Linked DNA regions of Homo sapiens: region 2 is linked to region 1. The links come from fine-mapping of genetic effects on gene expression. A gene starts in region 1. The other region holds a variant in brackets. All regions are shown on one strand. Distances are from middle to middle.

Evidence for each region. PIP is the estimated chance that this variant, and not a neighbour inherited with it, causes the effect. A credible set is the group of variants that fine-mapping cannot tell apart.
Region 2: its variant is the best candidate, but not a certain one, in a credible set for the expression of GPAT4 in whole blood (INTERVAL, PIP 0.73).

What each region holds. Positions count from the first base shown.
Region 1 is chr8:41,575,782-41,581,149 of GRCh38, reverse strand. It overlaps GPAT4 (glycerol-3-phosphate acyltransferase 4), which reads right to left and starts at 2,950. Exons shown (of 13, transcript NM_178819.4): 1 at 2,872-2,950. GPAT4-AS1 (GPAT4 and GINS4 antisense RNA 1) reads left to right here and starts at 2,782. Exons shown (of 3, transcript NR_125824.1): 1 at 2,782-2,844. RefSeq lists silencers at 2,444-2,583, 2,604-3,223.
Region 2 is chr8:41,620,611-41,625,978 of GRCh38, reverse strand. GPAT4 (glycerol-3-phosphate acyltransferase 4) reads right to left here. Exons shown (of 13, transcript NM_178819.4): 13 at 978-5,086. The coding sequence ends at 4,978. Among named protein-coding and RNA genes, the nearest start is that of NKX6-3, 28 kb to the left of the region's middle. RefSeq lists an enhancer at 2,879-2,978. The variant C/T (reference allele first, on the strand shown) is at 2,989.

The sequences.
Region 1 (5,368 bases):
TTAGTGATACATGGAACGGATGATATTCCGTCAAGTTCTCTCCATGAGCACAATGACACAGTAGGAAGTAAAAGACACGTCATAATGAGGTTCTACTTTACCCAAACAAACAATTCTGCAGTACAGTTCATGTTTAACCAGGGCCAAATCATCTCCAGATAGCTTAGAGAGTTTTGTTTTGTTTTTAATAAAAGCTAACTTGTGGTGACAAGCACACACAAGAAAAGTGGGTTTTTCTTTAGCAGAAACCACTTAGCAAGTTAGGCTAGCCTCTGAAGAGCCTAGCCACAACACTCCTCACACCAAACACAAAATAGACACACAACAGTTGCCTCCTCCTCCCTCCTCTATCTTTAGGGGTAATGATTTACCATGACACTCAAATGCTGTTATTGCAGTGGTACTTCCATAAACTGGACATGCATAACAACTATTGTATTTAGGTCACAAACTCACAAAAGAAAAGTCCATCCTGAAAGTAAGTTGACAACTATGTCATCATATAAATAACCTAAACTTCCATGAAAACTCAAAGACCCCTAACATGAGGACTTGCTTGTTCCCAGCATTCCTTGGAGAGGCAGAATATCCCCATTTTAAGGGTAGGAAAATTGAGGAATAAGTACTGAATTTACCAGTCTTTGTTGAGATAAGGAAATGTAATAGCATAAATTTTGCTAGGAAATGCATATTATGGTTTTGTAAGAAAGTCTAACCCATGGTCCAAGAAGCCCAGATTCTTACCTATTAATGGCATGAAAGGCTTTCTGAGATGATGCTATTGTTCTCTCAGAAAAAGAAGAGTAACACTCTTAAGTCATTCTGGTTTCCCTTAGTAACTCTTTCTTAAATAGCCGTGAATGTTATCTACACCGTTTATAGCTTGTTCTTCTTCTCAAACTGGTATACCACTTCTAAGGTCAGAATTTTATCATGTTCCCTAAAAACTATTATCAGAACTTCTCGTCTGCCCCAAATTGATTTTTAAGAAATAATTTAAGGCATTTCTTAAAATTCTGAAATTTGGTGGAAAAGCTCATGTTCGCCTATCCAAATCCTTCATGAATGTAAGCGTCTTCATCCACAGCCTTCCTACACCATTTCTCTTTCCTGAAGGCAAGTAGTATGGGTCAGTGGAACCGCAGCCTCGAGGCAGAGGCGAGATTTCAGCCTCTTAAGACCTGCAGCTCTGGACAAGTCACTGAACTTCTCTGGACCTCCAAGGGCTCAGAAAAAAATGAAAACATTGAACAGGACGTTCCGAATGTTCTCATCCAGATCTGAAACACTTTTTTTCTTTTCTTTTTTTTTTTGACACGAGTCTCGCTCTGTCGCCCAGGCTGGAGTGCAGCGGCGCAATCTTGGCTCACTGCAACCTCTGCCTCCTGGGTTCAAGCGATTCTCCGGCCTCAGCCTCCCGAGTAGCTGGGAATACAAGTACTTGCCACCACGTCCGGCTAATTTTTGTATTTTTAGTATATGCAGGGTTTCACCATGTTGGCCAGGCTGGTCTTGAACTCCTGACTTTAGGTGATCCGCCCGCCTCGGCCTCCCAAAGTGCTGGGATTACCGGCGTGAGTCACCACGCCCGGCCATACTTTTTCTTTTAACCTGTTCTATCATGTTAAGATACCTTTTGCTGTGCTCTTTCTTCAACTCTACTGTGTTTCTTAGCTGAAGACCTCATGAGTAGGCTGTGTTCCAAAACAAAAAGCACCTTATGACTTGGTATGGTGGTTTTCATTATGGAACTGAAGCTACTTTTGACAGACTCATCTTGCATCAAGTTCTCCCTGAGACATACGGGAGGGGAAATGGGTGGGGTGTGTATGGCACAGGAATAGCCACAGTTAAGTGGCTGAGGAGGCCAGAACAAGTACATGCTGGTTCCCTATTCCATCTATTTCCCTGTGTCTGAAATTCTCCAAAATACAAAGTTAAAAAAGAAAAGAAAAGCACATCTCTTTCAAAGAGAGAAGTATATTTGATTGGCATTATTACAGGATTTTGTCTGGAGACTTTGGTATGGTATAACTGCTCTTCACACCATTTCCCTTGGATTGAGATAGAATCTACAAGACATGAAACTAAGGAGAGCTCCTCAAAGTTCAGCCAAAATTAAGGAAAATGAACCAAAAACAAAATTCCTCAAATGACCTCAAGGTTATCCATGAGAAGATCCATGGTAATACTTGGCAGAGGATGGAACTTATTTCCATCGTGCTACACCGTATGTCTCCTATAAGCTATTTTCTGCAACTTCTGAACAGCTAAACTTCAGCCCTCTGTGACATGGAAAGCGAGGAAATAAACAAGCCCCACTGGGAGAAGGATGCCTCAGAGGGTGCTGAAATAAAAAAGGAAAGGCAAGGGATTTCAGGAGTTAAGAAATCCTAAAGAAAAATGGGAGCATGCATTTGGAGAAGGAGAGGGTAAAGACATGCATCTTACGGCAGCCAGAGAACACAGGAAGGGGAATGACAGGGGAAGGCGCTTCCTGGTGCTCCAACGCCCAGCAGCCCTCGCCACCCACATCCCCGGACTCCCGGGGCGGGAGGGCTGCGCACACCTGGGACTTGGGGGAGGCGAGGGGCTCCGAGGAGCCGGGCTCGGAGAGCAGGCGAGCGGAGAGGCGGGCGGCCGGGGTTCGGGGCGGGCGCGGACCGTTCCATCCCGGACGGGGGGCACCCGCTCCACCCGCCGGGGATCCCCGGGGCGCGGCGATGGTGCCTCCTGACGCCGGCGCAGCGTCGCCGGGGCGTCCCAGACCGCAGGCCCCGCGCGGCCGCCCAAGCCCGGCTCCCACGTCCCGCTCTCGGCTCCCCGGAGGTCGGAGACTTTGAGGTAAGGGGCCAGCTCCCTCCTACTCACCGACCGCGAGGCTAGGCAGCTCCAAATCCCGCGGCGACCGCTCCCTCCCGCCCTTGCCGCCGCCGCGGGCCCAAGCTGCGTCAGGACGTGCGCGCGCCCGCCTTTGTCTGCGCCGCCCAACGTGACCCTGCGCCCACCGCCCCGCACGCTCCCGTCGGGCGCGCGCGGGCCGGCAGGGCGGGGGCCTAGGGAGAGGCGGGTGCCGCGTGGACCGGTCGCGGGTTGGGCGACCCGCGGAGTCGCCCTCTGGCGGACTAGGGGGCACTGCCGGGGGCGGGGCGGGGCAGGAGCAGGAGAGGCCGGGCCCTGGCTGTCCCTCCGCTGGCGCGTCCCTCTCAGAAAGCGGAGCGCTTCCCTGCGTTAGGACCCGATACTGGCTCCCTCCCCGGAGGTTCGCTTGTGTGTTCCGGAGAGGGTGAAATCAGGCTGGCACCGCGGGAAGAGGCTAGAGTCACTAAATCACCTTGTCCTCTTGAGGCTGCTGTCCGTATGCAGCGACATTCTGCCCGTTAGAGGACTCAGCTCAGGGCCTGGTACGCTCAAGATCTGTTAGCTACCAGCACCATCACCACGACCACCGTCATCACCAGCAGTATCCCTCAGCCTCGTCTACCTTGCTCGTCAAGCAGGGTGCTCCAGGAGTGGGTGTAGGCCACTTTCGCCCTGCCTGGCAGATGCAACTTTCCAACTTCCACCTCCACTTGGACCTGCTCTCTCTACTCAAGTCTAGCTGGTGGCTGCTGGAGTTTGCGTGTGTGTTTCTTACTATATCTTCTGACTTCGGACGCCTAACCCAAGCTTATTATCTCCCCTAAAATGGGACCTCCTTAAAATATATATTACCTTTCTTTTTCCTGTTCTTAAAAGACAGTTTGCCTTTAGTGCCAAGCCCTCTCCGCCGGTTTACGCTGTACACGGCTGTCAGATTGTCATTCCGTGCTAAATGCATAATCTGATAATGAAATCTTTAAAGTCCACATTCTTAGACCTCAAAATCTCTGTAAGAATAAAGGGCAGAGTATGGTAGTTCACGCCAGTAATCCCAGCGTTTTGGGAGGCCAAAGCAGGAGGATCGCTTGAGGCCAGGAGTTTGAGACTAGCCGGGGCAACGTAACGAGACCCCCACTTCTACAAAAATTTTGAAAATTAAAAAAAAATGGTGGGGGGAGCGGGGCGCGGGTAGCTCACGCCTGTAATCCCAGCACTTTGGGAGGCAGAGGCGGACAGATCACTTAAGGCCAGGAGTTTGAGACCAGCCTGGCCAACATGGTGAAACCCCGTCTCTACTAAAAATACAAAATTTAGCCGGGGGTGATGGCACGCACCTGTAATCCCAGCTACTCGGGAGGCTGAGACAGGAGAATTGCATGAACCCAGGAGGCAGATGTTGCAGTGAACTGAGATTGTGGCACTATACTCCAGCCTGTGTGACAGAGCGAGACCCAAACTCAAAAAAAAAAAAAAAAAAAAGAATAACCACTTAGCTCCAAAACACTGGACTACTTATCTCCACCAAATATAACTAAATGTTACCCATTTGGAACTGATCACGTATTTATTAACTCAATCACTTATCCATTCATTGAGCCCTTGTTACTCGCCCAGCTTTTTTGGGGATCCCAATTCAAGATTGAGTAATGCATGGCCACGTCTAATCGTCAACGACATTAAATTCCATAAGAGAAGAAACCACCGGGCGCGGTGGCTCACCCCTGTAATCCCAGCACTTTGGGAGGCTGAGGCGGGGGAATCACGAGGTCAGGCATTCGAGACCAGCCTGACCAACATGGTGAAACCCCGTCTCTCCGTCTCTACTAAAAATACAAAAATTAGCCGGGCGTGGTGGTGCGCACCTGTAATCCCAGCTATTCGGGAGGCTGAGGCAGGAGACTTGCTTGAACCCAGGAGGCGGAGGTTGCAGTGAGTTGAGATCGCACCACTACACTCCAGCCTGGGCGACAGAGGGAGACTCCATCTCAGAAAAAAAAAAAAAAAAGAAGAAGAAACCAGACATCATACATTTTTGTGTTGTGTTCTCCACAGTGCTAGGGATAGGGATTTAAAGTGGCCACCAGGATCTCAACTGCTCTTTGGAGTCCTTCGTCTGGTCTCCTTTTCTGCCCCCAGAACCAGTCTTGGAAGTAGCCCACTCATCTGCTGTACTCTCTTTGTGTTCTCATGGTTATATTTTCTCACAATTCTTACCATCTACTAGTTCTTTGTACATAATATTGAAATCTTAAAATATTTCACACATATTAGAGGCTCAAGAGAAAATGGTGTTCTTTGCCCAAGCAAATAGTAGGCTCAATTGTTGGGTATTAACACTGATACACACACACACCTTGTGAGTGTGCACATTCACTGGCACATTCTCTAAACTTCTCAAGTGCAGGAAGGCAATCAAACTTCCCTCTGAGTGGGAAGCCAACATGAACTAGGTAAATATAGTTCCTGTAGGCACCAAAACTTTTATCACATTCATTTCTAGGTACAA
Region 2 (5,368 bases), 45 kb before region 1:
AATGGATTAAGGGCAGTGCAAGATGTGCTTTGTTAAACAGATGCTCGAAGGCAGCATGCTCATTAAGAGTCATCACCACTCCCTAATCTCAAGTACCCAGGGACACAAACACTGCGGAAGGCCGCAGGGTCCTCTGCCTAGGAAAACCAGAGACCTTCGTTCACTTGTTTATCTGCTGACCTTCCCTCCACTATTGTCCTATGACCCTGCCAAATCCCCCTCTGCAAGAAACACCCAAGAATGATCAATAAAAAAAAAAGTGTTTTCCCTTTCCTACAACTTCCCCTGGGTAAGAATTCTGGTTGTATCGTCAGTGGTTGGGTTGATCTATGTAAGACCATCTGTTTGGGGCCATATTTGTCTCGATAAAGTGCCAAACTCTTTACAGCAAACTCTATGCCAATGAAAATCTCACAAAAAGGCATTTCCAGTCTTCAGCTATTGGCCCACACTGTAAGAAATAATCCACACAGCCCGATTGCTGCAAAAGACTGTCTCCTGCCACATCTTCCTGCCACAGGTGACTCTGGTGGCGATTTGGCCAGGAAGGAAGCTAAAGGGTCCTGCCACACGAGCTTCTCTTGTTGATGACAGATGTCTGCTGACAAAGGGTGCCTGCCCCAGGGTGCATCCCCAGCTGGGAGAGGGCCGGTACGTGCCATCTCAGAACGCAGCCCAGCAGAGGCATCCAGCCCTGGCACCTGGGCACTCTTGGAGGCCAACACAAAGTTCTCAACTCGGCGCCCTCCAGCCTGCAGCTGATCCCTGCAGAGTAAGCCTCAGGCTGACGGAGATAAAGTTTGCCTGGGCCCAAGTTCCAAACTCGGCCGTTTTGTTTCTGTTAAAATGCAATTGTTTTTCTCTGGAGTGTGTGGTGACTGCTCCGCGTCAGGAAGATGTATGAAAACCTCCACTTCAATTCGGCATCCCTTTTCTCCCAGACAAACACGGTCGGATTTTAATAAATCAAAGAGCCACACTGTTTAATAAAAATTTATTGACTTACAAGTGATTATTTATCAAAAGACCATTAATAGCAGGTACTGAAATGATGTGTTACTGGGTGGTGCTGGGAGACTAATAGGAAATCAATGCAGCTGGCCGGCCAGAATGCATATGAGAAGCCCACCCCCCGGCAGCCAGCGCAATCACCCCCGCAACACACGCCAGGTGCCACCCCTGGCGCAATGAAAAGTTCCCCCTTTTTATTTATCGTTTACAAATGAAATGATCAATACTTTTAATCTAGAGCAAAATTTATTAACTTTCCCATCGGAGAGAGACATATTGACTGGGGGAGAGAGTGGGGTGTGCGTGCTGTAGAAGATGGATGGCTGCGTGGCCATATCCTAACCTGTCCGCGAGGCAGTGCACCTGCAGCTGCCCTTCCAGCCTACGGACCGGGCCACCTGGGACAAGTGCACCTGGAGAAGCCGAGTCTGGCCACCCGGGATGCACAGCAGGCAGGTGGGACCTATGACATGGGGGGATCCTTCATGCATCAGGGGACACTAGCAAGCAATAGCCCAGAAAATCAAGTTCCTGGCCAATTCCAGGAAGGAAATGGCAGGATTCAGAGACCCAGATTTCCACAGGACAACAGGGTTAGTGCCCACTGTTTGCTGTGCCGTGAAGGTCACACGATGGCACCCAAAAATGCCTGTCACTGGTCTGGGAAGGGCATTTCAGGGATCTGGAGCACTCCCCCTGACCCCTCACACATCAAGCCTCTTCTCTGAAAGGCAGCACCAGGGACGGATTCTGACACGGTGAAGCATCAAGTCCCAAGGCTGGTTCTGCTGTCAAGGGAATCCCACTAGCTTTATTAAAAAGTTCCCTCTTGGCTGGGCGCAGTGGCTCACGCCTGTAATCCCAGAACTTTGGGAGGCCAAGGAGAGTGGATCACCTGAGGTCAGGAGTTGGAGACCAGCCTGACCAACATGGTGAAACCCAGTCTCTACTAAATACAAAAAATTAGCTGGGTGTGGTGGTGCATGCCTGTAATCTCAGCTACTTGGAGGCTGAGGCAGAAGAATCACTTGAACCCGGGAGGTAGAGGTTGCAGTGGAGCTGAGATTGTGCCATTGCACTCCAGCATGGGCAACAAGAGTGAAACTCCGTGTTTAAAAAAAAAAAAAAAGTTCCCTAACTGGTGGGTGGAAAGTCTCATGTTTGAGTAAAAAAGGCTGTCTGAGAACCACAATGAAGATACTGCCCAGCCTGAGAGCAGTATGGCCCCAGCCCCATGGCTGCCTAAAGCCCTTGAGGTCACCCTCAAGTGGGTTAGTTCCACTAGCCCTGATGTTTTAGAGAAGCAATGGATTCAAAGCTGACTTCCCGTATTTCCAAACCCAGAAGACTTCAGAGATCAAAGCCAAAGTTTGAACTATGGGCTTAAAAACAGAGAATTCAGAGGTGGACGAGGTCTCTGAGGTCATCTAGCCAAGTCCCTAGTTATGACTCAGGAGACGGATGCAGAGAAGTGAAGGTGCAGCAGGCTTGGAGGGGGGTTAGCAGCTGACCAGCACTTTCCACTCATTACACCACTGGGTGTCATTCCCAGCTCAGCCCCACCCTTGCTGGGGTAACAGGAGGGAACACATTATTTTGTACTTTGCATGTTTCTAAGTGTCTTGAGTTTTTGCCCCATAAGACCAACTCGGTTACCCCAAACCAGATACTCTGACTATGGGTCACTTGGGGCTTGCAGGACCCCTAATTTAAAAGGATGGAGCAGTCGCCTGGATGATGGTAAAAGGCATACACGGAAAGGGGAGGTTACGTTTCTGCAGGCGTGAATCAGTGCTCTCCTCACTGCCCGGCCCGCACAGGACTTCCCTCCACAGCACTGACTCCACGTGACTTCACACCAGGTGCGGCCACACCTGCCGGCAGGGGCCGCAGACAGCTGTGCTGAATGTGAGACAAAAGCAAAACCTGTGTGTGTGTGTATATATAAATACCTATGCAAATCACGAAAGTAACAAA[C/T]CATAAAGTTTCAGATGAACTTTTTAAAAGAGAACCTGATCTTTTAAGACCAATTACTGATCCCTCCAGTTGGTTTACAAACACTGTAAACATCACCTATAAAAGCTGAAAATCACTTTTTATTCTTAAGCATTTTGTAAAACAGTTCCTAAGAGACTTATTAGTCATAACACTGACTTTATTTTTTCAGTCTTCATTTGAGAGCAAAAAGATTTCCCCCGGGCTGGCAACAGGGCAGGTGAGGAAATGGGAGGCTCTCCCAGGGAGGTCACAGGTAGGTGCAGAGAAAAGGAGATTGCAGGGCCAACCCAGCAGGTACCACATGCAAAGTGGATCTGTCTGCAGCCCCAGGAGCACAGCTTCACTCCCACCCACTCCCTGAACTGCAGGCCAGAGGGCGACCTTGGGGACGTGACACTCAGCACCACAGGCACAAAATCCTGAGAGGCATCATGACTGTGCCACGAGGGAGCATGGGTCCCAAGTGAGGGCTGGTGGGGCATGAATGGGGAGCTGAGGAGCATGAAACTGGTGAAACCCCAGAACCCACAGGGGCTGCTTGGCCTTGGCTCTGCCTCCACTGTGACTGTACAGCAGGCACCAGTGGCCGACTCTTTTCCTGTGGTGCCTGCTCTGGCTGTGCAGAAGCTGCCATGCAGCACATGCCCTGCCCACCCTGCCCCTCTGCAGCCCTCCCCTGTCCCTCCCCTGCAGAAGCCACCATGCAGCACAGGCCCTGCCCCGCCCCGGCCCCTCTGCAGCCCTCCCCGGGCCCTTGCTCCTCCCCCACCCTGGAGTTTACTCATTGCTTCCCCTAGGCCTCACATCAGCGACCCGCACACACCCCGTCTCTGGAGAAATCCACGTCTGTGCTGGAAATTCTAAATTAACCAAAGATCTGCAAGCATCTGAGACGAGCTGTTCACCTTCTGAGCTGCAGGGTTCCTCGCTCCAGCAGTCAGTTGGCTTCTCCGCAGCCCCAGGGCCATGCTCCCAGAAGAGAACGGGAATCCTCACGAGAAGCCTGCTACTCAGGGCCACAGCCAGGGGAGAAAGTAAAGGGAGAAGTCCCCCAGTTCATTCACCAGCCAGTTTTATTTACTCACAAGAACAAATCCAAAGCCCAGTGCAGCAGCTCTGAGCTCAGGCCTGCCGTGCCCCGTTTTGTGGGCCTGTACTTGAAACACTGAACGTGATGTGTCCTTCACTCACCCGCAGCACTTTAATCCCCACAACAGCCCTGTGAGGTAGGAATCACCACCATTCCCCCCGACTCATATTACAGATGGGGAAACCGAGACACACATTCAACAAAGCGCGCATCACATGGGGAGTTCAGGGTTAGCCTGGAGTACGAACACACGTTCTCCCCATGGCCCAGTCAGCGGCCCACCTGGCCTCTTCCCCTCCCTTTAGTAACCCCATCAGCAGCAGCATAAAAATCTAACCCTTCATTTTGCTGAAAGCCCCTGCAGATGACAGTTTCCTTCCTATCATGTCTGCAGAGCTCCAAGGCTGGGGGCGATGTTGAGGCCGAAGCCAGCCACAGTGCCTCAGCTGTGCCTTTCCTGGAGAGCGGGTGGCCGCCCCCAGCACATCCCTGGCACACGGGCTTGCATAACAGACTCTTGTACCGCCATCTCTAGCACAAGACCATGGCCACATCTCCCCAACCACTCAGCCCGCACAGCGTGCAAAGGTGGGGAGTTCACTTTAATGGCATTCCTCCAACGACTTATTGTAAAAGAAACAAGGCATCTCGTCCTGGGTCGCAACACCCAGCAGCATCCGTTTAGACCACCAAGGGTAGGCTGCGCCGGGTGCACAGGGATCCCGCTGCGGCTCGGCGAAAGCCGGAGTCCTGGGATCCAGAGCAGCCCGGGGAGCCCTGGAGTCTGGAAAGGACACAGCAGTGGGGGCGGCGGCGGCAACTCCAGCTCTGAGCCCGTTGGCACCCCGCACGGTGGCCCCAGCCAGCTGGAGGCAGGCTCAGGAGCGGCTCCTGTCCTTGTGGTTCCCCACGATCATCTTGCTGTACAGCTTCTGCTGCTCCTCCTTGAACGTGTCCTTCACCTTCTCCCTCTTCAGGCCCCCATCCCTGGAGAGACAAAGGCTGGATGTAGTAACAGCCAAGAGGGCTCCCAGCCACGCTCACACCATGGGAGATGCACCATGCTGCCCAAACACCAAGAAAAACCTGCCAGAAACAGGGTACCCCGTGGCACTCTCACCAAGACAACCTCAGGGGATTTGGGGCTCCGGGATCCCAATATCCACCCTTTCTATCTCAAAAGGTCTACCCTTGCCCTTGGGTGAGAATTTACTACTCACATTCAAGGTACTTGATAACTGCTTAAACCTACCAAGGAGTTTACAATTC